4 linked regions of the Homo sapiens genome follow. The protein of the gene in region 2 interacts with the protein of the main gene of each other region in a biochemical or structural test. Each region holds a gene or a part of one and is shown on either strand. Other genes may lie near its edges.

What was found.
Region 1: the proteins of TEC (region 2) and FASLG interact in a test that uses a peptide from one of them, tested with the Homo sapiens proteins (one study listed by BioGRID and IntAct).
Region 3: the proteins of TEC (region 2) and KIT form a complex in vitro, tested with the Homo sapiens proteins (2 studies listed by BioGRID and IntAct, with this or other methods).
Region 4: of the proteins of TEC (region 2) and ARHGEF12, one has a biochemical effect on the other in vitro, tested with the Homo sapiens proteins (one study listed by BioGRID).

What each region holds. Positions count from the first base shown.
Region 1 is NC_000001.11:172,662,079-172,667,382, reverse strand, and holds the end of FASLG (tumor necrosis factor ligand superfamily member 6), read right to left. Parts: intron 3,050-5,304; coding exon 2,993-3,049; intron 1,762-2,992; coding exon 1,367-1,761; 3' UTR 507-1,366; downstream 1-506. UniProt on the Homo sapiens protein: Cytokine that binds to TNFRSF6/FAS, a receptor that transduces the apoptotic signal into cells. Involved in cytotoxic T-cell-mediated apoptosis, natural killer cell-mediated apoptosis and in T-cell development.
Region 2 is NC_000004.12:48,140,837-48,147,866, reverse strand, and holds part of TEC (tyrosine-protein kinase Tec), read left to right. Parts: intron 1-1,467; coding exon 1,468-1,542; intron 1,543-2,287; coding exon 2,288-2,459; intron 2,460-2,571; coding exon 2,572-2,788; intron 2,789-6,447; coding exon 6,448-6,512; intron 6,513-7,030.
Region 3 is NC_000004.12:54,653,308-54,660,966, reverse strand, and holds the start of KIT (mast/stem cell growth factor receptor Kit isoform 1 precursor), read right to left. Parts: upstream 3,011-7,659; 5' UTR 2,953-3,010; coding exon 2,886-2,952; intron 1-2,885. UniProt on the Homo sapiens protein: Tyrosine-protein kinase that acts as a cell-surface receptor for the cytokine KITLG/SCF and plays an essential role in the regulation of cell survival and proliferation, hematopoiesis, stem cell maintenance, gametogenesis, mast cell development, migration and function, and in melanogenesis.
Region 4 is NC_000011.10:120,472,389-120,479,418, reverse strand, and holds part of ARHGEF12 (rho guanine nucleotide exchange factor 12), read right to left. Parts: intron 6,370-7,030; coding exon 6,292-6,369; intron 4,860-6,291; coding exon 4,784-4,859; intron 4,080-4,783; coding exon 3,912-4,079; intron 2,759-3,911; coding exon 2,671-2,758; intron 2,201-2,670; coding exon 2,114-2,200; intron 1,973-2,113; coding exon 1,893-1,972; intron 1,264-1,892; coding exon 1,030-1,263; intron 1-1,029. UniProt on the Homo sapiens protein: May play a role in the regulation of RhoA GTPase by guanine nucleotide-binding alpha-12 (GNA12) and alpha-13 (GNA13). Acts as guanine nucleotide exchange factor (GEF) for RhoA GTPase and may act as GTPase-activating protein (GAP) for GNA12 and GNA13.

The sequences.
Region 1 (5,304 bases), on a different chromosome or scaffold from region 2:
GATCCCACAGATCAGTGGCCTCTGGAGAATGAAGTGGCTCTAATAGAGTGGCTTAGTAGTGGCAGACACTATTTTTTGATGTTCTATGTGTCTGATACTTTCAGCTCTTTTTTTGTTCAAGGAAGGTCAAGTGACCTAACCAGTGCTTACATAGGCAGTACGTGGAAGAACAAAGATTCAAATCTAAGTTTTTTAGTCCAAAATATGTGCCCTTTCCACTGTGCCATGGTTCTGCCTTCAGGAAAATATAATTTCTCATCAAATCTATGGAAAGTTGGCTAAGCTTAACATTGGTCATAATATTGGTAATGGAAACTCTGGGAGGTGAAGAGGAAAGAGAATATATAGAGAGAAGGAAGGCCTAGCAAAGGCAGAAAGATTTGATTCATAGTTCTTCTCACTCCAGTAAATTATTCTTAAAAGTGGTCTGATATCATAATGAATGAAGAAATCAAGGAGGAAAGAAATAATAAGCAAAAAATTCAAATATTAGTAAATTCTAAAAATTATTTGTATCCTAACATATACTTTTTATTACATGTTTTCATTTCACAAAAATGCACATCTACATAAATATTTATTATATTATAGGAAAACATCATTAGTAGCTGACAATCAATGATTTTTAAGCACTATTAGAGTTGATTGTCAGGAAGCATTCAAAATCTTGACCAAATGCAACCCATATTTTCCTAATATGTACTTCACAATATCTACATTCTCTCTTTAGTCATACACACACACACACACACACACACACACACACCCCTACAATTGCACTGGAAATACACATGCTGTGTTAGGAATGAAATGAGTCCCCAAAACATCTCTCTTGCTTATCTGTTAGTTTCACCGATGGCTCAGGATATGCATTTAGAAGTGAAGATGCTGCCAGTGGGGCATTGGCCTCTTTCAGCCTCTTTAGCTTATTATGCAAGCCTCTAGTCTTCCTTTTCCATCCCTTAAATCCTCAGGTCACAACCATGTATCTGAAAGACAGTCCCCCTTGAGGTAGCAAGGCCCACCTTGAGAGGTGAGTTAAAAGGTGTCCTTTTCAATCTGCCTAAATACTCTCAGGCACTAAGATGAGTGTAGAACACCTGGTAGCTGCTTTTTCATGCTTCTCCCTCTTCACATGGCAGCCCAGAGTTCTATGTTCTTCCGTCATATTCCTCCATTTGTCTGGCTCATAAACATTAGGTGAGTTGAGGAGCTACAGACATTTTGAACCCTGTGGTCTCAAGGTCCACTTGGTTCATGTCTTCTTACTTGACCTCAAATGCATGTAAGAAGACCCTCACTGAATACAACATTCTCGGTGCCTGTAACAAAGAATCATAATGGAAAGAATCCCAAAGTGCTTCTCTTAGAGCTTATATAAGCCGAAAAACGTCTGAGATTCCTCAAAATTGACCAGAGAGAGCTCAGATACGTTGACATATAAATGATCAGCACTGGTAAGATTGAACACTGCCCCCAGGTAGCTGCTGCGGGCCCACATCTGCCCAGTAGTGCAGTAGCTCATCATCTTCCCCTCCATCATCACCAGATCCTGGGGATACTTAGAGTTCCTCATGTAGACCTTGTGGCTCAGGGGCAGGTTGTTGCAAGATTGACCCCGGAAGTATACTTTGGAATATACAAAGTACAGCCCAGTTTCATTGATCACAAGGCCACCCTTCTTATACTTCACTCCAGAAAGCAGGACAATTCCATAGGTGTCTTCCCATTCCAGAGGCATGGACCTTGAGTTGGACTTGCCTGAAATAAATCCAAAAGGAGCTTTCAACAAGGAATAGTCATGCATCCAACAAACTAAGTTTCTAAGGCAAAACTGTGGGCCCTTCCTTCAACAAATGTTTCACCCAGAATGACAGCTGGTATAGAACTGGCTGAGGGGTCAGAACTTGATCCATCACAGAATTTCCTCAACAACGTTGTCCTATTTTGTCATCCACACAATTGGAACAATAGTATATACCCGTAATCCATTGCAGTAAGAAATTATTGAGAAAATATTTGCTCTCTGGAACAAAGATTTTACTATCTTCAGAACTAGCACCAAATCTGCTAGGCTTTGAAGTCCTTTCCTGAAGGAAAAAGCCAAATCCAAGGAACTCTAAAGTTCTAAAGTTGGGAAGGATCTTAGGGACCATCTGGTCCATCTTCTCACCTGCAGTAAGAATTATTCAGCCCCTCAATTTGGGGTACAGTTCCCTTTTCTTTGTATCCCCACAACATCATGAACATAACCTAAATCTCTGAAGTACTGAAATTATCATAAGTGCCTGTCTTTCCCTATTAGATGTCAAGCTCCCTGGGGGCAAGAGCCATGTGCTACTCATCTTCACATCCCCAAATTGGCACACAGCAGGTATTCAGTAAGTGTCTGCTGATGTGACCGGATCATTCTATAATTTCTGCCTAAATAATTCCAGGGACAATAGCCTACCACTTTCTGTGATATTTATTCCATTATTTATGTAGTTTATAATGGGAGTGCCCATACCATATCATTTCACTCCACTTTACAGGCACATATTGAAACTCTACAAGTGCCAGGATTGAGTCTCCCTTCTCACTCCTATTTATACTCTTGGACAAAGCAGAGTGAAGCTCTTCCAGAAAACCAAGAAAGCACTGACTAAAATAAGTCCTCATTCCTCACCTTCTCATCTCTCACCTCTTGGATCTGTGCCCCCAATCCCCCAAGGGACTTTGGAATGACTGAAAAGAATGAGCTTCTTATGGGCAGGGGTCATGTCATAATCAGCTCCAGGTCTCCAATTTAGAAGAGGGCCTTGCCCAGAGAATAGGGGATCAAAGTGTGTTCATAAGACTGACTCGACAAGAAAAGTGTTAGTATTATTGGGTTCAAATACTGTCTCCAGGAAGTAACAACTCTCTAGAGCCTGGTAATGGAAACCAGGCAGCCATTTTGCCTTTTGCCAAAAGCTTTCCCAAATCTCACCTGTACCTTCCAGATACAGACCTGTTAAATGGGCCACTTTCCTCAGCTCCTTTTTTTCAGGGGGTGGACTGGGGTGGCCTGTATCATAGAGAGAGGAAAAATATATGTTAAAATGAAATAGCAACTATTATTTTGGTGGGAATTTAAATCCAATCATTTTAAAAAAAAGATTTTAAAACCGTAAATGGCAACAGTCTAACATATACTAATCATGTAGGTCTGAACTGCAGGATTCATAGTAGTCTATATTTCAGAAACAAAGAGGTAAAAAAATAAACCAAATTAAGATTGACATATGTATAAATTATAATGTTACAATAAAACATAATTAATATAAACATTTATTCATAAAGAGCTGTCATGTCAGTTATTGCATTTAGAACTCACCACAACCCTTTGAGGTAGGTATTATTGTCCCACCTTATCGATTGCAAAATGAGCTTAGAAGTTGGGTGACTAATCCAAGAAGACCCAGCTAGTCAGCATCACAGATGGGACCACACCCTGCTCTCCTGACGCCAATTCCAGGGCTCTGTCCACTCTGATTCTCTTGTTCCAAAGACTTACAGGACAGAGGCTGAAGAAGACTACTGATCTGTCTGCGTGTCACCAGATCTTCCCCCAGTGACATTTTACAATCTGCCCCAAATTAATTATCTTAAGACCTCTGACAATCACCTCATATCACTGAGTCCTCAAACACCTTTAATTGCTCCTCCCCGAAGATGCCGTCGTATACAAGTATCCCCATCACACAATCCCAGCCCATCTGTCCAGCCTTATCTCCTTACTCCCACTGAGCATTGCCACACAACGGGAGTTCTGTGGCCTACACATACCCCCACTTTCCTTCCTCTGTGCCTTTGTTCATGCCATGTCTTCTGCCCGTAATGTTCTTTCAAGCAGATTTCTGTGTCAAATTCCTAAACATCCCATAAGGACTACCTATTACCGCTTTCTTTGGGAAACCCTCTCAAGCCTTTTTTGATCAAATATGATCTGCCCCTCTTTTGAAATCTAGGATCCCTCTGTCTTCCCCTCTCTTGTCATTTCTGACTCCTCTTGTCTCTGGGGTAACTACATAAATTATCTTATTCCCCTCAAATAACGACAAGTTCCTTACGATACGTTGAGTTCACCAGAGAAGCCCAGTTTCTAACACAGGGCATGTTACTAGCAAATGTTGGACAAATTAAATGGAAGGATAGACAATAGTTCTCAAAACAGACACTATTTCTCTGACTTCAACTGTTTCAGACAAGATAGACAGCTGCCACTTAGCTAATGAATTCAGCTAACTGAGACTTCAATAAATATTCACAGGAGATGCTTGTCTATGTCAGGTTCGTGATTAGCCTGTAAAACTCACATATGGTATGAGAATGGCCCAATCCACAGAGAACATTAGCTGAGCAATCATGACCTCTCTAGTCATCCAAGACAACCCACCATGTAGGAGGTGTTAGCGAACAGGAAAGGCAAAACTGAGTCTCCTCTGCATTCCTACACCGCAAACCACCCGAGCAACTAATCTGGCACTCAGCCACGCACCGGCAGGAAACGGAACAGAGAACCACATGTTGCATGTCTTTATATCCCTCACAGAGCCTAGTACAACGTTATTCTTACAGAACATGCTCACTAAGAATATCTGCTGTACCTATACTGGAATAAATAAATTGCAAGGATATCCTAGACACTGGTTATGAGTGCTTCCTGCCCCAGGGTTTTTGCATGTGCCGTTCCCAGCGCTGAAATGCCCGCCCCCAGCCCCACCCCACTCCACAGCACATGCACACAGCCGTTCACTCATCGGGCTTCTGACCCCCAAGGTGTTAGCGTAAACAACACCTCCTTAAAGAAGATTCTCAGGTTGTACTTAGTACAACTTTGGAATTGCATGGTCTGTTTGCTTGCTTTTGTTTAGCTTCTTCCCCCTGCTAAAAGCTCCATAAGGACAGGCCCCCTGGGCTGGCTCATCCTCAATCAGCATCCAACACCCAACATCTAGCCTCACACATGTGAATGAATAAAAGATTTAATTAGTTAACCGGAAAAAAATGGAAAATGTAAAAAGGAGCAAATTAGAAAGTATAAATAATCTATAATAGTATCTCCCAGAGAAAATCACTGTTAGTATGTCAGTGTGTAAAACTTTCCAGTTCCTAAGAATATAAAAATGTGCATACATGGTTACATAGTCAGTATGAAACTAAACATACCCTTTTGTAACTTGTCTTTTTATCTAACAATACAGAGTGCACAATCCCCAAAGCATTAAATGTCCTTCTGATACATCACTTTTAGTTGCTGCTTATTATGTGCTTGTCTGA
Region 2 (7,030 bases):
TATAAACAAAATGAACAGGGCTTGACACATAGTAATTGCACAATAACTTCTACCTATTATTGAGTTACAACCCAGAGCCTAACACAATATTTGTGGAATGCTTAGGTTCTCAGGCCAGCATACAAGTCTACATTTAACTCTTAAATAAAATAACAGTTTCAAATTGAGTATAATAATGCTAAATGGTGAGACAGGATCAACCCCTCTATCTCCAAATATAGGGGGATTATCTTACCATCCACCTGTTGTATTAGAAAGTCATGCTTCATCTACTTATGGAAGCCAAGACATAGCCTAGATATGTACAAACTATAGATATAACGATGTTAAGGAAAAAAATTGCTGACAATATCACTAGGGATTCTAGACAATGTAAATTGCCATTAATGTTTATTGCTGTGATGGACTTCCTGAACACATTGTTAGAAATTGGTTTGTGGCCAGGTATACAAATAATTCATTGTATGGATTTTATTATTCATCAGTTGATGGACATTTGGGTTGTTTCCACATTTGTTCTCTTATGAATAATGCTTCTGTAAACAGTTGTGTACTAGTTTTTGCATGGAAATATGTTTTCATTTCTTTTGGGTATTTACCTAGTTATGGGTATGCTGCGTCATATGGTAACTCTGTGTTTAACATTTCAGGAACTGATTTCATATCAATTTATATCTCATTCTGTTGTTTTCTTTTTTGGTGTTTTTGCTCCCTAATTTTTTCTTCCGTGTTCCTGTATAAGTTTTATTTTTCACCGTCATCTCAATTCATTCAACAAACATATATCAAGTGCCTACTGCATGCCAGAAACAGAGCCAGGCTTTGGGGAGACTTCAATATTTCAGTGGTGGACTAGGTGTAGTCACTGATCCTGATTTTCCCAGACCCTACCACTTGTGGGGAGACAGAGAAGTACATAACGATTTTAAATTGCTTTGAGATATCTTGTAGTAGAGGAAATACAGAGTGCTATGGGTGTTTATGGAAGAGACATCTCCTGTTTCTTATTTAGTGCTGTATGCGACTTGGGTTAAAAGATCCACACTGATTTCCAGTAGTTGGTATTCCCAGTTGTTGCTATCCTAGAGCCCGATTTGTATGCTAAGATTGCTAATACTGAGTCATGTCAGGTGAATAACTTCCATTTTTAGCAGACTAATCTAATTCCCTTTCATAGTTCAGCTCTCATATTGGAAAAGAACACGAAATAACTGTTAGAAACCTTTTAACATCCTTTAAAATATTTGAAAAAAGAGAAAGCTGGCATGGTGCCTGTTAAACACTGTAGTATTTAAAAGAAAATGTTTGTTGAATGAATAAAAGCATATAGCAGAGTGCTGTATGTACACACAGAGGATGAGCAGTAAATGAATAAATGATGAATTTTCTAAGTGAGTTTCCTGTAGCATGTGACCAAGCAGAATGATTATGAATGAGTTTGACTGCAACGCTTTCTTTGATTATTAGGACTTGTCACCAGGCTTCGGTACCCAGTTAGTGTGAAAGGGAAGAATGCACCCACCACTGCAGGATTCAGCTATGGTAACTCTTATTTTGTGGTTGCATGAGCTAATTTTCCTTGAAAAGAATCCATTGTCATAAGATAAATTTGGATGTGTACTATTTCACATACTGGAACTGTTTTTTATAAGTTTATAGTATAGGTTTTTAGATAATTATACTTAAGACCATAGCAGCCTAGGTATTCAATTTTCATCATTATTCATAATTCCATAGAAAACTTTCTGTCAGTGAAAAATAAGCATTATCATGTTAACATCTAAAATAAATCAAAGCCCTTCCTGGTTCTCACTAGCTTTATTGGCTACAAGAACGTGAGTAAGGATGGAGGTAAGAAAGCAAGCTTCCAACTTAATTGTCTTTGTTGCTTCTGGCAAAAGCCTTTAAAACAGCAAATTAGATTATTTCCAACTTGATGGAATTGAAAAAGAACAACAACAAAAAAAAAACCTGAGAAGGAAGAGTGGTAAAGAAGGAAGTATTTGTTTGACAAAAGTACCTTTAACTTTCAGGCTATATTATTATTAGCTTGTTATGCAGAATTGTCTTGCCTTCTTCATTTCACGTTGGTTAGAAGGGATTCATCCTTCCCACCTTTGGCAGTTCAGATGCAGGTTTCAAGTCTGTTCTGTGTTTTACCAGGAATTATTACAGTGTTATCCTGTAATTTTGAGGTTGATCTTGGTTGTAGGTTCTTTTTCCCCCTCTCTGATTCATGCTACATTTTCCTTTTTAAATATGAACACTTTCACTTTCTGTCCTGCAGAGAAATGGGAGATTAACCCTTCAGAACTGACCTTTATGAGGGAATTGGGAAGTGGACTGTTTGGAGTGGTGAGGCTTGGCAAATGGCGAGCCCAGTACAAAGTCGCAATCAAAGCTATTCGGGAAGGTGCAATGTGCGAGGAGGACTTTATAGAAGAAGCTAAAGTGATGATGTAAGTTGCTATCATCTTTCTGGCTCATCTTTTTGTATTAAGAAGTGGCCCCTTACCAAAAACTTGGTAGTTTCTTTTCCTATAGTAACTATATATATGTCTTCCTTCCCAGGAAACTGACACACCCGAAGTTAGTGCAGCTTTATGGTGTGTGCACCCAGCAGAAACCAATATACATTGTTACTGAGTTCATGGAAAGGGGCTGCCTTCTGAATTTCCTCCGACAGAGACAAGGTCATTTCAGTAGAGACGTACTGCTGAGCATGTGTCAGGATGTGTGTGAAGGGATGGAGTATCTGGAGAGAAACAGCTTCATCCACAGAGATCTGGTAACCCTAGCCACCCATATTCCCACTCATTGGCTGAATTCCTTTGTAACACTGGCTCAGCAAATGTGCAATGATGTATTAATAGCCAATTTTTGTTCTTAACAATCTTTCACCATTATTTTTAAAGTTGGTAAATTTAACTTGCCCTGTAATTTTAAACGAAAGATCTTTATTCAATCTAATGATTTACTTAGTTAATATCTCCAAGCAAGTTTCCATGTTTTAATTTTTCGATCTCCATAAGAATCCCATGAGATAGCTACTCACAGTGGATTCTCTTACCATCATTCTTGTACAGATGAGAAAATTAGCTTCAGGGAAGTCAAAAGGCTCGCCTACTGTGATAAATAGGGAAATTGGGGTTGGCCTTGACTTTCTAACTAGAGCCCAAGTTCTTTTCCACCTCACACACTATAAAAAGAAACTATAAGAGAAATCCTTTGGATTTTTAAAAAATCTCTCAAATCACTGGGAAAACATGGAGGTTCATGTTAACTTCTCAAAATGCTAGAAAAAGAAATCCGTTACCAGTTCTAAATTATGATGGAGACAATTTTTCCCTTCTCACCTGTTCTCACTCTCTCCTCCATTCTTCTTTTCCTTCTGTTTTTCTTCTCTACCTGTTCTTTACAGATGCTTTCAGCTATCAGTAGCACTCTGTCCCCTGAAAATAATCAGCTGAAAATGTCTGTTTTCAGCATATCGGTAGCACTGTCTGTCCCCTGAAAATAATTCTTTTACCAAGAAGAGTGTAATTTTCATTTGGGACTTTCTCCCATATTTTAGTTTTAGCTTTCTAGTGATAAAGCATGGACACATTTCTTTTAGAAAGCAGAAAAACTTTAAAAAAATTTTTTTTTCCTTTGAGACAGGTCTCACTTTGTCTTCCAGGCTGGAGTGCAGTGGCGCAATCTTGGCTCACTGCAGCCTCAACCTCCCGGGTTCAAGCGATCCTCCTGCCTCAGCCCCCAAGTAGCTGAGACTATAGGCACGTGCCACCATGCCTGGCTAATTTTTGTAGAGATGGGGTTTCACCGTGTTGCTCAGACTGGTCTCGAACTCTTGAGCTTAAGCAATCTGCCTGCCTCAGCCTCCCAAGTGCTAGGATTACAGGTGTGAGCCACTGCACCTGGCCTTAGCAAAACATTTTTTAAAGTTAACAGTCACCTTAGACAGACATTGTTCTGATAAGTATTTTACAAATAAACTTGTTTAATCATAATTCTGGGAAGTAGATTTTCTTATTATTCCCTTTTTACAGATGAGGAAACTGAGGTGCAAATAGGATAAAATAACTTCCAATGGGCAAGTAAATTGTAGAGCCAGGATTTGAACCCAGGAAGTTTGGCTCTAAAGTCCCTACTTAACTACTATGCTATGCTCTCTAGAATTAAAACATATTAGAGAATTGAAGATTTGGAGATGGAACACTTTATTTCCTAGGTGTGTTTTGGGATACTTACCTTATCTTATATTCAGTTTCTGTGTCTGTAAATTGTGGGTTATAATGTTGTTTGGCTTCCAGGACTGTTTTAAAGGTCACATTATTTGACTGGGGCAATGGGCTTTGTAAAATAGACATGCTGTAGATAACATCAGTTATTGTTATCATTGTGTCAGGGATGATGAAGAACATCTCGTCAGTTAAAACTTGTGAACTAAGAACTAAGAACAAAATAGATGTCCTTATAAAACTGATAAAAACTGAGTATCTACGTGGGTGTGGCAGATTACACCTGTCCACACAGATGATGTTTTGGCAAAAACGATTCTTACATTTCTGTGCCTGTGATATTGGTATTACTATGGTAGGTTTGTGTCACCCCTTATGGGAAACTTTGGATGCTCTTGTCTCCTTGGTAAAGAATCCTGTTGACCATCCAGTGCAGGCATTGTGGAGTTGTGAAGTGTTTTCATAGGAAGATGCAGGCAGTCCAGGGAATGGATATTAACTCTCACTTTATAAGACTCTTAAAATGCACTCAGCAAGAAGGAACCTCATATGAGTGGAATTGCCACATAGAGAAAATAGAATTATGAACAGTCAGGAAGAAAAACATATCTTGGTCTATGGGTTATGGTATTAAAAATATTATCGGCCAGGTGTGGTGGCTCACGCCTGTAATGCCAGCACTTTTGGAGGCCGAGGCGGGCGGATCACGAAGTCAAGAGATCGAGACCATCCTGGCAAACATGGTGAAACCCTGTCTCTACTAAAAATACAAAAAAAATTAGCCAGGCGTGGTGGCAGACGCCTGTAGTCCCAGCTACTCGGGAGGCTGAGGCAGAAGAATCACTTGAACCCAGGAGGTGGAGGTTGCAGTGAGCCAAGGTCGCACCACTGGACTCCAGCCTGGTGACAGAGCGAGACTCAGTTTCAAAAATAAAAAATTAAAAAATTAAAAAAAAATTCTTGTCTTCCTTTTGAGAAATACCACGTCTTTCTATCAAACTATTTTCTTAAACCTTGTAACCTTGAAGAACATGCAAGAAAATATAAATTAAATAATCCACAATTGTATTTGACCAATTTTGTACATCATGTTATAATATACTGGGAACATAAATGAAAAAGCAAACTGTATTTACACATAGCTGTTCTTTTTGAGACGGAGTCTTGCTCTGTCACCCAGGCTGGAGTGCAGTGGCGCGATCTCTGCTCACTGCAACCTCCACCTCATGGGTTCAAGCAATTCTCCTGCCTCCAGTCCTAGGTAGCTGGTACTACAGTTGTGTGCCACCACACTTGGCTAATTTTTTTTGTATTTTTAGTAGAGAAGGGGTTTTGTCATGTTGGCCAGGCTGGTCCCGAACTCCTGACCTCAAGTTATCCACCCGCCTTAGCCTCCCAAAATGTTGGGATTGCAGGCGTGAGCCACTGCACCCAGCCTGTTCTTTGACTGGGATGAGATGACCAATCACTGAGCAGAAATATTGGATAAGAGATTGGTCGCCCATCATTTTGATGGTTGTGTGTTATTAAGCTCACCTAGTGAGAACCGGATTAAGGACTTCAAGAGATGTTCTCATTGTCAGTAAGAAAATTGGATAGTTTAATAAGAACAGGTCTGGGAAGGAGAAAAGTGAGTTGACCCTTCTATTAGCCCTTGTTTAAGAATGACAGTTGGCCGGTGAGGTTGCTCGTGACTATAATCCTAACAATGGGGGAGGCCGAGGCAGATGGATGAGGTCAGGAGTTCAAGACCAGCCTGGCCAACAAATACAATAATTAGCTGGCTGTGGTGGTGGGTGCCTGTAATCCCAGCTACTCTGGAGGCTGGGGCAGAAGAATCACTTGAAACTGGAAGGTGGAGGTTGCAGTGAGCCAAGATTGTGCCACTGCACTTCCAGCCTGGGCGACAGAGGCAGACTCTGTCTCAAAAAAAAAAAAAAGAAAGAAAAGAAAAAAAAAAGACAATTGGTAAAGATTATGTAATAATGCCTTATTGCAAATACAACTTTCTGACCTGCCTATTCATTTTTTTCAAATACACAATGGAAATACTTCCATAGGGGTAAAAACAACTTATTAAAGGGTGTTTCCACTCTCTGCAAATGTTGACTAGGTTACACTAAATTTAATATAAATAGAACTTACATTTTCCTACTTAAATGATAGAATTTTTAAACTAATATACCATCATAATGTTGTTTTCCAGGCTGCCAGAAATTGTCTAGTAAGTGAGGCGGGAGTTGTAAAAGTATCTGATTTTGGAATGGCCAGGTATGTCCAAGTATACGTGGTTTTAGGTGATGTTTGCATTTTTTTGGTGGAATTAATAAGTGTGGGAATAATTTGCACTGATGAAGCAGAAAGGAAATCTTGTTAACTGGTTCTCAGATTAAATTAAGTATATATTGTGATGGTAGTAATTCTCTCCACTAGGTGGTAGTATAGCCTGTTAAATACACTGTATTTCCTGGTGTGGATTAGATTTCTAGAATCTTTTGTTTTCACAAAAACATATTTGGTGGTGAGGTTCTTAGTATGTCCATGTCTGCAGTGTTTTTCTTCTCTTAATTTTTATAATTTAATAGTATTATAAAATACCTTTTAAAGGTATTTAGTTTATTTTTTCTCTCTTCTCCCTCCGTCTATCCATTCATTCATCCATACATCCACCCATAAAAAATCAGGTGCCTGCTCTGTGCCAGGCATAATGATAAGCTGAACCATATAGAGAATAAGACCTACAAGTCCTTGCCCGCATGCAGCTTACATTGAGGAAGAGGGTGAATCAG
Region 3 (7,659 bases), 6.5 Mb from region 2:
CCGCTTTCATAAGACACGCAATTCTAAATATTTTTCACCAAAATTGGGAAGGTAGTGACATTGGCCATCCTGTATTCCCAGAACTTCCAACAATCCCTGGCACATAGTAAAAACTCATTAAATATTTTTGAATGAGTCTTACAACAGATTCTGGTGAATCATGTGAATGGCTATAGAGCTGGGCACATGCAGCCAATCTCATCAGGCTTCACCACTGATGATTTAGGGCTTATCCTTAGCCAGTTTCTCCAGCTGTAAAATGTTAGGGGTAATAATAGTACTACTTCCTAGGCTCATTGAGACTACTAGAAATAGGTAAAGCCCCAAGCAAAAGGCCTGGCACACAGTTTCCAACTGAAGAGCAACAACTATGTACACCACACATGTCATACGAAACTTAAGGCCCATTAGAAAGCATGCTATAAATGCATAGCATTACATGATTTACAGAGTCATGAGAAAAAAAATGGGAATGAGTGGGGGAAAAAACAGAATAGGGATAAATGAATTATCTGGGGTCTCTTATTTCCAGCAGGATAATAATTTAGAGTGCCTTGTGTCCAGCTGCTGAGAATGACTCCAGCCTCACACCTGCAGGAACGAAACGGGGAAGGTATGATTCACTATTCCTAGCAGGTTCATCCTGTTAGGCACAGGAGCTGTAATACTTGGGGGGCGGGGGCCCTCAAAGGGCAATGCAGAGGAATATATGGGAATTGAAGGGCAGTAAGCATAAGCCACAGCTCCTTGCTTCAGTCAGGGGCAGACCGGTCAGATGCACCCATACTCTATGACTTCCCTGTGAGCAGGAGAGGCAGAGGAATTTCAAAGAGGCAGACAGGGGCCAGGGGAATAGTTAAAAAGAGTGCTGAGTCTACACTCAGAACATTGGAGGAGAATTCTGGACCCAAAGGATCCTTCATGATGCAGATGCCTCCTTGTACTCTGGAGGACACTGCGTTTCCCAGAATTTAAGCAACCTGCCCTAAGCAACCTGGCCAAGGGCACGCAGCCAAGAAATGGCAGAGAAACCGAGAACCCAGGGGACAGAGCAAGGCTTTGTCGTTACACCACACTGCCCCCCCAGGAGACAGACCTTAAAATTCCCTTTGCCAAAAATCTATTGGGGAGAAGAAAACCATTGATTCTTTTAATTTTTTAAAAGGGAGATATTCGATGTGGTCTTTCTAGTCTCCTACTAGGTTCTAGTTCACATAGCTTAACTGATATTAAAAAGGTCAAGGCACAAAAACATAAAGACCAGATGTGTTGTTTTAAGCTAGGTGATCAAATCCTCCAGAGAATCCGAACACTCCCTCGTGACCCCTGCTGACCCCTCCTGCTGCACAGGGGTCCAGATGCAAGGCCTCTCTGCCCCCCACAGGAAAGCCCTCACAATAGTTACAAGTCCAGGACGCTGCAGACTGCGCCTGGAGACTTTATAGAGAAACTGACCGGTAGTCGACAGTCTCAAAACCGTTCATTGCGCCGCTTCCTTTCAAGCGCTTGATTCCAGCTAAGACTCACTTTCTATCCTTACATCATCAGGGTAACCTTAAAGGTTTGTTTTAAAAAATGACCTGGGAGATAGCAGGGCTTCAGGGGTGAGCTGGGCGACCTGCACTCGCCCGCACCAGCGACACCTGGAAAAAAGGGAACGGGAGGCAGGAATCTGACCAAGGGGCTCCAGCAACCTGCAAATCCTTCACCTAAGACCCAGTTCCCGCGCGGATATACCTGGATTTCTGTTATAGCTTTAAGAACTGAGTAGGATTTGCAGAAAGTTCCACGCCATCTCCCACCCCACCCCCAGGCAGCCCTGAAGTATAGAAGTCCCGGGGGCGGGGAGGCGGGCGGTCACGAATCTCAAAAATTTCCGAAGAAAACAGGACCTGCGAATACAGGTCGCAGACACCGGGAACTAGGGGCTTTCAGAACCCGCCAGGCAGGCCGGGCACTCTGGCCGGCGTGCTAGGCGGTTGGAGTCAGGGAACGCAGAGTCCCAGCACGCTGTCCCTTGCCTTCCCGGAGCAGGCGGCAAACACAGCCTCCAGCCGCCCCGGGGCGCGCGGCAGGAATGAAACGGCGCCGCGGCAGAAAGGGGCGAGCACGGGATGTACGAAAGCAAAAAGTCTGCAACCTAGCGGCTGCTTTCCACACGCCCTGCCCAAGTTGTCCCTGTCGCCACCACCTCCAGGCTCGCGGGAGTCCGGCCCCACAACAGCCCCACGCCGCGCACTCCCAGCGCAAAAGCCTAACCCGGAGGCGGGGAAACGCCGCAGCCTTCGATTGGTCTCCACGGGTGGCGCCGCGAGCAGAGGCGGCAGCGGGTCGGTCCCCAGCTCTGGGCACAAAGAGCGCCTGCGGTTGGAAGGCAGTAGCCGCAGAGCAGAGAAAGGGCTCTCTAACTTTGCCCTCAGCGCGGCGGAGAACCTGCAGGCAGGTCCTCCCGGGCGCCGGTCACACACACGCAACTTTTAACAAAAGGAAGCTGCGGCCGCGCCTCGCACGGCAAGAGAAGGCGCTCGGTGCAAACCCCTGAGCCCCCCGCCTCCGCCCCCCGCGCAACGTCGGCACAAAAGCCACCCCAAACTCGCACGGAGCCTGCAGCCTCGCTCACGCCTAACCCCCTCTTGCTGTCCCCATTCCCGAAGAACCCCGGATTCGCGTCCCCCACCACCAGCAGCTGGGGTCTCCTCGCGCAGGTGAGCGAGGCAGGGCGCCGGAGAGTCCGAGGGCCACCTGGAGTCTCCCCGGAGGCTGGAACGCACGGGCACTGAGGGCCCGCAGTCCTCTCTCCGGATGCACCCTGGCGGGTACCACCCTCCCAGGCACAGGCTTCGCCGAGTAGTCGCACGGTCGGGGTGCCAGCCGCGGTGTCCCACCTGTCTGGACGCGAAGCAGTAGGAGCAGAACGCAGAGAAAATCCCAGGCGCCGCGAGCGCCTCTCATCGCGGTAGCTGCGATGGGATCCGAGCTCTGGTCCACGTTCCAGCTCTCGCCCAAGTGCAGCGAGCGCGGCAAAGCCGAGCCCCCAGAGCCGCGAGCGGCGAGCAGCAGCCCCTCCTCCCAGCGCCCTCCCTCTGCGCGCCGGCCACGCCCCTCCTCGCCTCCCCTCCCTCGCGCCCGCCCGGGTCTCGCTTCTTCCCGGCGGCGTCTGGCCCCTGCTCTTTCGACGTGTTAATGCCGGGGGGCCGTGCCCGCCGGGAGGAGGAGGGCGCGCGCGCCCTCTCTCCCCGCTCTTGACTCCGGAGCCCCTTTCTCTCTCCACCTTTCCACCCCTGGGATGTGGACGGCCAGGCTGAGGCCGTTCCCGGACCAAGGAGGTGCTGCCCGCTCGCTTTGTGAAGCTGGGCACCACGCACACGTTAGGGCACGGGCCCGCCACCTGCCAGGTGCTCCCCAGACAATAAAGGTCGACTGCCCGCCCCTCGAGCACGTTCGGGCGGGAGGAGGCTGGACGCCGCTGCTCGTGGAGGTGGCATGGGGATGGGGAGGGGAGCGTTAGGAAATTGAGCCCCGACATTCCCCTCCAGGCCTGTTAGGAGCTCCTGGCACCGCGGTAAAGGCTGAGCCCGGTTTCGCTAATTGTTTCTGCTCAATTTCTCCACCTGCTTCGTAACCTGTAGGAACACAGTGGGTTCCTATTGGTCGGCGTGGCCTCCGCCCAAGAAGCCCCTGCCGGGACTTGTGTGGAGACAGGGGCGATGGAGGGCGCGTGGCGAAGTTTGCTCTGGGAGCCCAGGTTTTCATACACGTTTTCCCCCCTCCCCCCAACGCTGCCAACCCCAGTAATGATTTCTCTGCCTCTGTAACAGACGACAGTTTTAGGGCTAGGGCTCTTAACTGCCCTTGCCGGTCCCAGGAGCAAAATAAAAGTACAATGATTCTCTTAAGCCCGATTTCACTGCCCAGAAAGTGCCTTACCCACAGTCTCATGGTGGATCCTTGAACGGAAAGCAACAACAGTATCTGTATAGGGGTTAATAGTTCTTCCCCACAGCGACTCGTCTTTTCATGCTCACGATAACAGCTTTGTGAGGAGGGTAGAGCAGGTATGTTTATTATTGTAGTGAGGGAAGACCCAGGGCTTGAACACTTATTGGAAGACCTACTCCAAGAAAGATGAGCTTTCCCTATGCATTCTGATAAACTAATAAGACATCCCTCCTGAGAGCTTAAGAATGGAAAAATAAATGGCAGATGCCCATCAGAAAAAGGGATAGAACAGATACACCTAGACTCTTCTCTGAAGTATCATCCAAAATTTACAGTTGCCCAGCTGCCCCACTTCATTTAATATTGAAAGCTCTCCTGTTGTTTAATAGTGTGAGGACCCAGGTTGATGTAAGAAAAATGATTTTTAAAGCTAATCACTTAAAAATTATCAGTGCTAGAGGGTGATCAAATGATCAATGTGTATAATTGCCTCTCTTTAAATGTAAGTATTTACTCACTCAGCAAGCATTTGTTTAGTGTCTGCTGTGAAGCAAGGAGGAGCTAGGTACCAGGAGTACTATTATTAATAGACAGATATGCAGATGTGGCCCCTGCCCTCACAGTCCTTATAATCAAGTATGGGGACCTACATCCCAATCTCCCAGCAAAAGGTTCGAGTCATGCGGCTGTAGGAGAACTGAAATACCAAAGGTCTCTGTGCTCTGGGCCATCAGATCTCATGTTTTTCTTAGGATGACAGATAAAAGATACCACTCAAAGCAATCATAAGTTTCTGGGATCTTGATTTATTTCTAAAATTCATTTTGTATTGAGAAAAAATCACTATGAGTTAAAATATCAACATTATGCCTGAGAGAGAAAATTTACAATTTTCTTCTTCAATCAGCTGATATTGGAGAGGATAACATCTTCAAAAGAGTGGGTGAAAAGAGACCATATTGCAATTTAATTCTAGGCACGGAACTTCTATCAGGAAAAAAAAAAACTGAATAGGGAGTTATACCATGTTGGACCGTCATTCCTGTTTTTCATTCAGCAAATATCTTTTGAGCACCTAGGTAGGCATAAGACCCACATAAATGAGTAAGACAAAGTCTCTGTCTAGGGGAATTCACAGTCCAGCAGGGAAAATAGGTACTCAAGTAAGAAACTATAATATCTGCTAACAGAGCTTATGTTCAGCCAGTACACACCAATTTGGCCTTATTGGTTGACACAATATTGAAATCCTTCTGTACTGATTACAAAAAAAACCATACCCTAAAATATCTCCCAGCCCAACCTTGAGACACGCTAAATCTCCTTAGATCCAGGAATTAAAATTTTAATGCTGGCCACAACAGAGAGCCTCCAGTACTTGTACCTTTAGGGTTGTTAGCTGTTTTTAATAATACCCACTGCCTGTTACATAAAGAAAGGAAGCATATATATAAGGCACTATGAGTGGACATATATGCTGTAATATATAAGGAACTATATTATAGATCAGCAGTGTCCAATGGAACATTGGCAATGATGGAAATGTTTTATATCTCAGGTAGGATGTATGGATTAATTCTATACTGTATTTTGTGATAGTCCTGGGCATGTTCAGGGATTGTGCTTTATGTATTTCATTGTTTTCATAATTCTTTTAGCAAGGACTCTCGATTGCAACTTATAGAAGCAGCTTAAATTAAGCAAGCAAACAAAGAAGCCTAAATGTATTGGCTCTTATAACCAGAAAGTCCAGGGACAATAGTGTTTCAGACTTTCCTAGATCCAAGGACTCAAAGTTATCAGGACTTGAAGGGCGAGTGTGTGTGGATGCATGTGTGCACAAGTGCACGTACACTTTCCTCCACCTTTATCCTCAATACTTTCCTGTGTTGTTTTGCCAACCTTGTATACACTCAGGGCAGCTCTAGGCTTACAGCTCACTAGTACCAACGGAAGTAGAGTTTTCCTGCCCCCATAAACATCTCCTGTAAAAGTTTATGGGAGAAACCGAGTCTCACTGACCTGGCTTAAGTCATGTGCCCATTGGGAAGGAGCCAGAGGGATGGAGTATGCTGATTGGCCATGTCTGAGTCATGTGCCCACCCCTGAAGCCGGGGTCAGGGATCCACTTCACACCAGAGGCCTGAGATGGGGAAGGGTGCATCCCCAAAGAAAAACTGATGCACCATCAACAGAAGAAAGAGTAATAATGCCACACAAATACAACTAACACAGCTAAAATCTCGAACTTGAAAATATTTTATTATATTTCTGACTGTAAAAGATGCTTATTGTAGAAAATTTGGAAAATACCAAAAATTATAAAAAACAAAAAAGGCACTCAAGATACAATCACTGAAGAGTTTGTTTTAATATGTTCCTTTCTTTTTTCTCTATTTATGTGTGAGGTTTTTTTCCCTTTACATAATTTAAGATCTTGGTATATTTTCAGTTTTCTATCCAGCTTTTTCACAAATAACATGAGCATTATTACAGATCACTAAAAATCCTTTGGAAACACACTGTTTAATGGCAGTATAATGTTCAATTTTATGGATGTACCATAATTCTGGGTGTTTAATCATTTCTCTCTTTTTTTTCCAATTTTTTTACTATCATAAATTACTTGATGATTAATGTCTTGGTGAATAAAACTTGCCTGCTTCTGATTAGTTATTAAGTATGCATTCCTAACCAGGGGTGGAATTACTACAACAAGAGTATAATCCTTTTCAAGTTTGCTTTTTAATAGCTTTTCTTGGTTTTCAGCAATCATCTGAAAGTCTTTTGTCCATAAAGTTGAAGAAATGAATAGATTAATACAATCCCCCGGTTAGATTCTATACTAACAATAACCACTTCACAGTTTGTGAGTCTGAAAGGAGATAATGTATGGTCTTCGTTCCAGCTTTCATTCAGTATTAATTGAACATCTCTGTGTCAGATGTAGTGTATTAGGTGTCAGGGATACCAAGTTAGACAAGACACAGATGCTGCCCTCACAGGATTTCCAGCAAATGAGGGGAGAGATGAATAAAGGGGCAAAAATTACATGGCATGAAGTACTCTAACAGAGCCATGCACAGTGATGTTTGCACACAGAGGAGCACCTGTCCAGTGAGCTCATGTGGCCTCCCAGAGAGGTGGGTATTAGACTCTGAAGGATCAGGAGCGGGGAAAGGGAAAGGAGAGAAGAATGTTCCAGCAGTGGGAAGTACAAACGCACGGGGCTAGAGGCAGGAAACAGCATAAGGAATAGGAAGAACAAGGAGTGCTGCCCAGTCAAGGAAATGGGGCTTGGAGGAGAGTGGGGAGAGTCGAGGCCACAGAGATAGACAAGAACTGTAAATACTCCGAAATGAGAACCTCATCCTCTGAGCTACGGGGAGTCACTAAAGGACTTTAAGCTGCAGCCTGTTGTGCTAAGATTTACATTTTTGGAAAGATAGTGAAGAAACTCAGTGAAGGGTGACTTGAAAGGGGGCAAAAGTTAAGGCAGGAAGAAAATGGTAAGGAGCCTAATGCAGTGATCCACAGGAGAAACAGGGAACTGAATTAAGTCCACAGAGGTGAGAATAGTGAGAGGGGATGAATAAGGAAGTTAAGATTCAATAGGCCTGTGTGACCAAAAGTATTGTGGAGCTACATGTGCTCCCATCCAGCAAGACATGGAGGTACTTGTTAGTGGACAGTGAAGGATTTGGAGTTGAGCCTGTTTGT
Region 4 (7,030 bases), on a different chromosome or scaffold from region 2:
AATGATAGAGTTATTGGGACAATGTTATTCCAACCATCAGAAATTATTAAGACTGTTAATTCAGGAGAAGGTATAAAAAATATTGTAGGTTTTAAATAACCAATTCTCTGCTCTCATCACTAGCTTAATGTCTGTCATGTTTCTTTAGGCAACAGGTTCCACTTAGGTCTCTCATCCTCTGTCCTTCTGCTCTACAATCACTTCCTGAGAGATGCCAGGAAGTCTCATGGCTCTGATGCTCACATCTCTATCTCTTCCTAACCTCTCTCTAAAGTTTCACTCCTAAAACTCTAACTTCCTGCTAGTTACTCACTTTTTAGTGTTTTGTCATTCATTATCTTAATCTTGACATGCTTTAAAACTGAGCCTATAATTCTACCAAATCAAAAGAAAGAAAAAAGAAAGTACAATGGAAGGAGGTGGGGGAAGCAGTGGTAGTCCTTTTCTGACTCTTATTTCTGACTAGATTAATGAAATTATCTCTAAATATTCCCTTTCCTTTGACCTCACATTCAAAGAAGTCAATTATTTTAAGCATTTGATGACTTCTCAGTTTCTTCTTATTCCTTCTGATAACATTCTAGTCCAAACTCTTTTAGTCTCAGGCCAGACTATTATAATAGCTTATTTAGTAAGTACACCATTCCATACCTCTTTCCATTCAAATCCTTCCACCGCTTTCAGCCAGATTAATCTTTTTTCATACCTTTAGTCATACGCTGGTTTAAAAATTTCAAGTGGTTCTCCCCAGCCAAAGAAATTGTTCTCAGCCTTTTTCCCACCTCAATACAACTGAGAGATATGCTATCCTCCCATTTTAACAGTGATTCTGAACCAGGCAGGGGGGTGGGGAGCTAACAGAGTGGCATGTGTGTGTGTGCCTGTGGCATGGGCCACTGTAGAGAATACTATAATCTCCACAATAGAACTAGAAGAATAAGTGGAGTTTGATAAATCCACATACTTTAGGGATGGCACATGAGTGTCATACTTAGTAAGTATCTGTAATAAGTTATGAATAAAACTTACAATTTCTTAGTGCATCCAATGCCCACCGTTCTTCTGAGACAGGCAGGTGTGAATCTGGGATTGCGATTTGATAATCTTCTCCAACTTCCTTTAGTGTCCCATCTGTATGTTGTTCCTTTGCAAACTGTCTCTCAGCCACAAACAGATCACGTACCTCTGATTTCCCAGAGGTACTCAGTGAATGAGACTGAGGTTTTGACGATATTAAGGTAGATTCTAATCCCAAATCTCTGTCTGTCCAATGGAATAGAAAAGGTAGACTATATCTAAACAAAGCTTTTAACTTTTAACATGAAGCATTCAGGGAAGAATCAGAAAAAAAAAAAACAATCCATAAACTACAGAGATCATCTGTTAAGAAAAATACACATCACTTAGAACAGTGTTATACTGACACACAGAAGGCTCAAAGGCAAAGTTTGTTAAACTGAATCTCTGATGCTGGAACCTGCATAAACCAAACAGTATTAAAGTTTCTTTGCATTTTATTTTATTTTCTTTTTTTTCTTTTTTTCTTTTTTTTTTTTGGTGTTTCGGTCTTGTTGCCCAGGCTGGAGTGCAATGGCACGATCTCGGCTCACCGTAACCTCCGCCTCCTGGGTTCAAGCAATTCTCCCTGCCTCAGCCTCCCAAGTAGCTGGGATTACAGGCACCTACCACCATGCCCGGCTAATTTTTGTATTTTTTAGTAGAGACAGGGTTTTGTCATGTTGGTCAGGTTGGCCTCTAACTCCTGGCCTCAGGTGATACGCCTATCTCGACCTCCCAAAGCACTGGGATTACAGGCATGAGCCACCACATCCGGCCAGCATTTTAACAGATAATAGAGCACATTCTCCATTGAACTCTTCAGAAGAGTGTACCTGGACTCTGCAAACCAGTGACTGAAATGCCATGCTGCTCCTCTTTTAATTTTGAAGGATCTTCTTCATCATTATCTCCTCTGTAGAGAAAAAAAAAAAAAAAAAAACTTTTACCTTCCTGAGGTATCTAAACATCATCGCAACAAAACATAATAATTATCCTAGTCTTTTCCAACCCAAAACATAAAATAAGTCCTACTACAATGCAAAGGAACACTCACTCGCCAGGTGTTGACTGTGGTAATGGAATTGGCTTTGTGGATTGCTCCTTCACTGATGCAGCCATCCGACAGATTAGGTCCTGCCAGCTTCAGAAAGTTGGAAAGAAATCCAAAATACAAAAAAGAAAAAAGAAATATCCTTTAAATATACTCAGAAAGCAAAACTAAACAAAAACCAAATCAACCAACAACAACAACAACAACAACAACAACAACAACAACAAAACCCACTCTGCCAGAGAATATCTTTATTTTGGCAACACACTATTAAGGCGAGAGTCCAAAACTATACCTTAAGAGAAATCTATGGACACATTAAAAAAACTTCACTTGACATTTTGCACAATTTTTTCTTTAGGAAATAAACTTTCAGAATAGAATCAAAATAAAAGGCATCAACCTAAAAAAGAACAAGTTCATAGTAGAACGTCTCTAAAAGAGTACAGAGGAAGTGCTTGGTTTCCATACATTATAAAAACAAAGTTAAGTTTATGGAATATTACGCTTGGGATAATGAAAATATTAGCTATAGCAAGGTAGCCATATCTGATACATACACAGTCTTTTCAGAAACTGTCTGTGCCACCAGTTCATAAATCTGAGCGCCATTGTCTGACATGGAAATGACGAATAAAGCTTTGTTATCTGGAAAAAACAATACAAGATTACTCTAATACTATGACCTGGGGAGGCCATGAGGGATGTTTTTAGGGTCTTGAAATAGTCTGCCCCTTAAACTAGATAAAGGTTACATATATTTACTTTAAAATTCATCAAGATGTACACTTAAAATTTGTGCAACTTACCATATTAACGTATTTATTGTACTATATTTATTGTACTTCAATAAAACAAAGATTATACGAATTAGCACTAATTCCACAATAATTTACTAGAAACTTTGCTAAAAGCATGTCAAAAATCCAAATTACTGGCCGGGCACGGTGGCTCACACCTGTAATCCCAGTACTTTAGGAGGCCGAGGCAGGTGGACCGCTTGGAGCTCAGGAGTTCGAGACCAGCCTGGGCAGCATGGCGAAACCCTGCCTCTACATAAAACAAAAAAATTAGCCAGGTCATGGTGGTGCATGCCTGTAGTCCCAGCTACTCAGGAGGCTGAGGTTGAAGAATTGCTTGAGCCTGGGATGTGGAGGTTGCAGTGTGCCAAGGTTGTACCACTGCACTCCAGCCTGGGTGACAGGGTGGGACCCTCGTCTCAAAAGAAAAAAAATAAATAAATCCAAATTACCAGATTAAATGCTATTACTCTTTTGCATTTATTTTGAACTGCACTTTTGCTAAGTTGTTAGTTAATAATATTCAGTGAGTAGTGGAGAAAAGAGGTCACAAATTTATTTTGCCACCATGAAACTAACAAGTTTTAAAAGGGACCCCGTTGTTAATAGAGTTAAAATATAACTTGCCAGTCAAATTTGATTTTTAATCAACACTACATCCGTCTCTTTGGTTTTTGATTTTTTTCTCACCAAATCAAAAAACATACCACCCTAAATGAAAGGCTTTTCATTGGGATCTATCAATGATTTGAACATAAAGAACCAAAGTAATAGCATAAAAATTTTCAAATGCAGAAAACTGTTCACAGAATCGAGACACCCTAATAACTTTGGGGTATAAACTCTTAGGTCTCTTTCTAAGCAGTAAATTTCATGTAATTTGCTTAAGAATATAAAAATAGCAAGACTCTATGCCACTTGTGTTATTGAGACAGCACCGAGTATCTTATGCAACTTCACAATGAATCTGGAAATTAGTATCCTTCAGTGGACATACTTGCCTGTTGCCACTTGTCGAACCAACACTGTACTCAACTTAATGACAGGGCTAAACGTGTGTTTGCTATCAGCTGTAGATGCCAGAATCTTACTATGACACCTTAAAACCAGTCTATCATCCTGCTTTTGTAACAATACAAGAATGTCTTCCAGCAGCAACGTGTATAAATCTAGAAATAAAAGTGCAGAAAAAAATGGTAAGTACAGAAATGGAGACGCGTTTGATTAACTTTATAATGATTCAACAGAGGAATTCTATTTCTGTTAAAGCTACAAAATTTTAAAAATTGACTTGTATATTATCTTTTAAAATTTCATTTTCAGTAATTCATTTTTATTTTATTTCACTGAAGTGTCAGTCTGTGACCAATAGGAAATAAAAAACAACAAGCTGGGTGTGGTGCTGTGCGCCTATAGTCCCGGCTACTAGGGAGGCTAAGGCAGGAGGATCCCTTAAGCCCAGGAGTTCGAGGCAGCAGTGCACCATGACTGCATCTGTGACTAGCCACTGTGCTCCAGCCTGGGCAACATAGAAAGACCTTGTTTCTGAAAAAACAAAAACGGTTCCTCATCACAGACAGTTTAAGATGTACTGGTCTAAAGAAAGCTTACAAAGCATACAAAGACTCACTAGACTATAAGAATGATGGAAATAGGACTAAATCAGTTCTCCACTACATTCCTAAATGAATATTTAACACATCTTACATATAATGAAATAACACAAGCAGATCTACAAATGTACAAATAACACGAGGTAGCACTGCAAACTGCTGAGAGAATGGTTCTCTCCTCTTCCCTTTGTCATAGGAAACTTTCCTATTCCTTCCCTTTTGCCACTCTCCCCAAAACTAAAAGACAATATCAGACCTACCAATAGTTTTATCTCTATTCACCTTCCAAACCAATGGCCCTTCATGAATCATCTTCCTTTTTGTTAAATCCAAATTCTGGCAAAATAAAGAAAATCATGCACAAATAATTTCCAAGCACTCAGTAACATGATTATCTATATAATACAGTCTCTTTTAAAGAAATTCTTAATATAAAATACACCATTTACATTCAACTATCATTATTGCTATTTGTCAGTTCTTGAAAATGGCACAAAAGCCATATTAAAGTAATCTGCATACAATTTTCTAAAAAGGAAAAGGTATCTTGCAGAAGAACATTCAGGAGTACTATCTTCAAACCTCACTCTAAACAGATGATAACAGATTATGAAGATCAAGTTACAAACATTCAGTCACTAGATTCTCAACGTATCCTTTAATTTTCCTATGAATAACTGGATGAGCATGGTACATATGCTTGTCTATAAGAAAGTGGCTTCTGAGTTCCAAGGCTCTAATTTCAAAGAAAGTTCTAAGAAATAGTACTCATGAAAAGTCCAGGTACTACTCAGACTTGGTCTAAATATTAACAACTTATTAGTAAGAGAATCATCTTTTAGTATTAGCAGCTCTAGAAAACTCTCATTCTTTGGAAGCTAAGGGGAATAAGCACATTTACGTGCTTGTTGACGAAGTATTAATATATGACATAAAAGTCTATTTTAACAGCCACCAAATAAATCTGCCAAAACCACCACCTAGTGAAATGGTACAAAAACACTTAAAATCCGAAAAAGTTAACACATAAGCCCACATACTAGAAGTGGCAATTAGTAAACATTTTACTATCGTTCCTGTAATGGTTCCAACTTTTATGCTTCTGAAGAGCCTCATGAGAAAATAGTATGCTATCTTGTGTTATTAAATGATCTGGAAAGTTACCAAACAGTCCTACCCTTATTTAAACTACAGAACACAGGCTGGGCATAGTGGCTCATGCCTGTAATCCCTGCACTGTGGGAGGCTGAGAAAGGAGCACTTGAGCCCAGGAAATCTGGACCAACCTGACAACACAGCGAGACCTTGTCTTTACAAAACACAGAATTAGCTGGGTATGGTGGCATATACCTATAGTCCTAGCTGCTAGGGAGGCTGAGGTGGGTGGACTGCCTGAGTCCAGGAGGCCAAGGCTTCAGTGAGCCAAGACTGCACCACTGCATTCCAGCCTGGGCAACAGAGCAAGACCCTGTCTGAAACAAACTACAGAACACAATAAAATTAAATTTTATAATAATTAGTGTCCCTTAGTCTCCTGCCAATTGCTGTCATGTAATATTACAGTTTTATGCAAGATATTCCTCTAATGAAAAACTAATTTCATACAGATCAAGCATTTAAAAGGCAGCAAAAAAAATCATAAATACAGATAATCTACGATACAAGAACTCCTTCAGGTGACGTATATTCCCACTGAGATGTTAATTACCTGCCAGGTCTTTAGCAAATTTTATTTTATTTTTTAAATTATGATTAGACCATCTCTCACCCTGAGCTCTTCAACATTTGGGTACTCTGACAACTTCAGGCTGGAGGTATCAAGGCGACGCTGATAATCTTCTAGGCGCTGAAAATTAGGCAGGGTGGAACCAAGGTTAGTGCTTTGGTCATTAATGACCTCTCTATTTCTGAATCAAACTTGGCATTTAAAATCTCCATTTTGGCCAGGCGTGGTGGCTCACACCTGTAATCTCAGCACTTTGGGAGGCTGAGGCAGGTGGATCACGAGGTTAGGAGATCAAGACCATCCTGGCTAACACAGTGAAACCCCGTCTCTACTAAAAATAAAAAAAAATTAGCCGGGCATGGTGGCGGGCGCCTGTGGTCCCAGCTACTTGGGAGGCTGAGGCAGGGGAATGGTGCAAACCTGGGAGGCGGAGCTTGCAGTGAGCCGAGATCACGCCACTGCACTCCAGCCTGGGCGACACAGCAAGACTCCATCTCAAAAAAAAAAAATCTCCATTTTACTGAGCTCTTTGCAATGCTAGACAGGACTGAAAACTCACTCTCTTCCCGTGGCTTTGGTGATAATATACTCTCCTAGTTTTCCTCCTGCCTCTTTGGCTTTTCTTTCTCAATCTTCTTTTCAAAGTCATTGGTCTCTTATTAGCTTATATTTATTTTCTGAATATGTAAATCATGCACACAGTACAAAATTCAGATGGCTATATAAGGCAAAAAATAAAAAGTCTCCCTCTAACCTTGTCCTATTGCCCCACCCCCCTCAA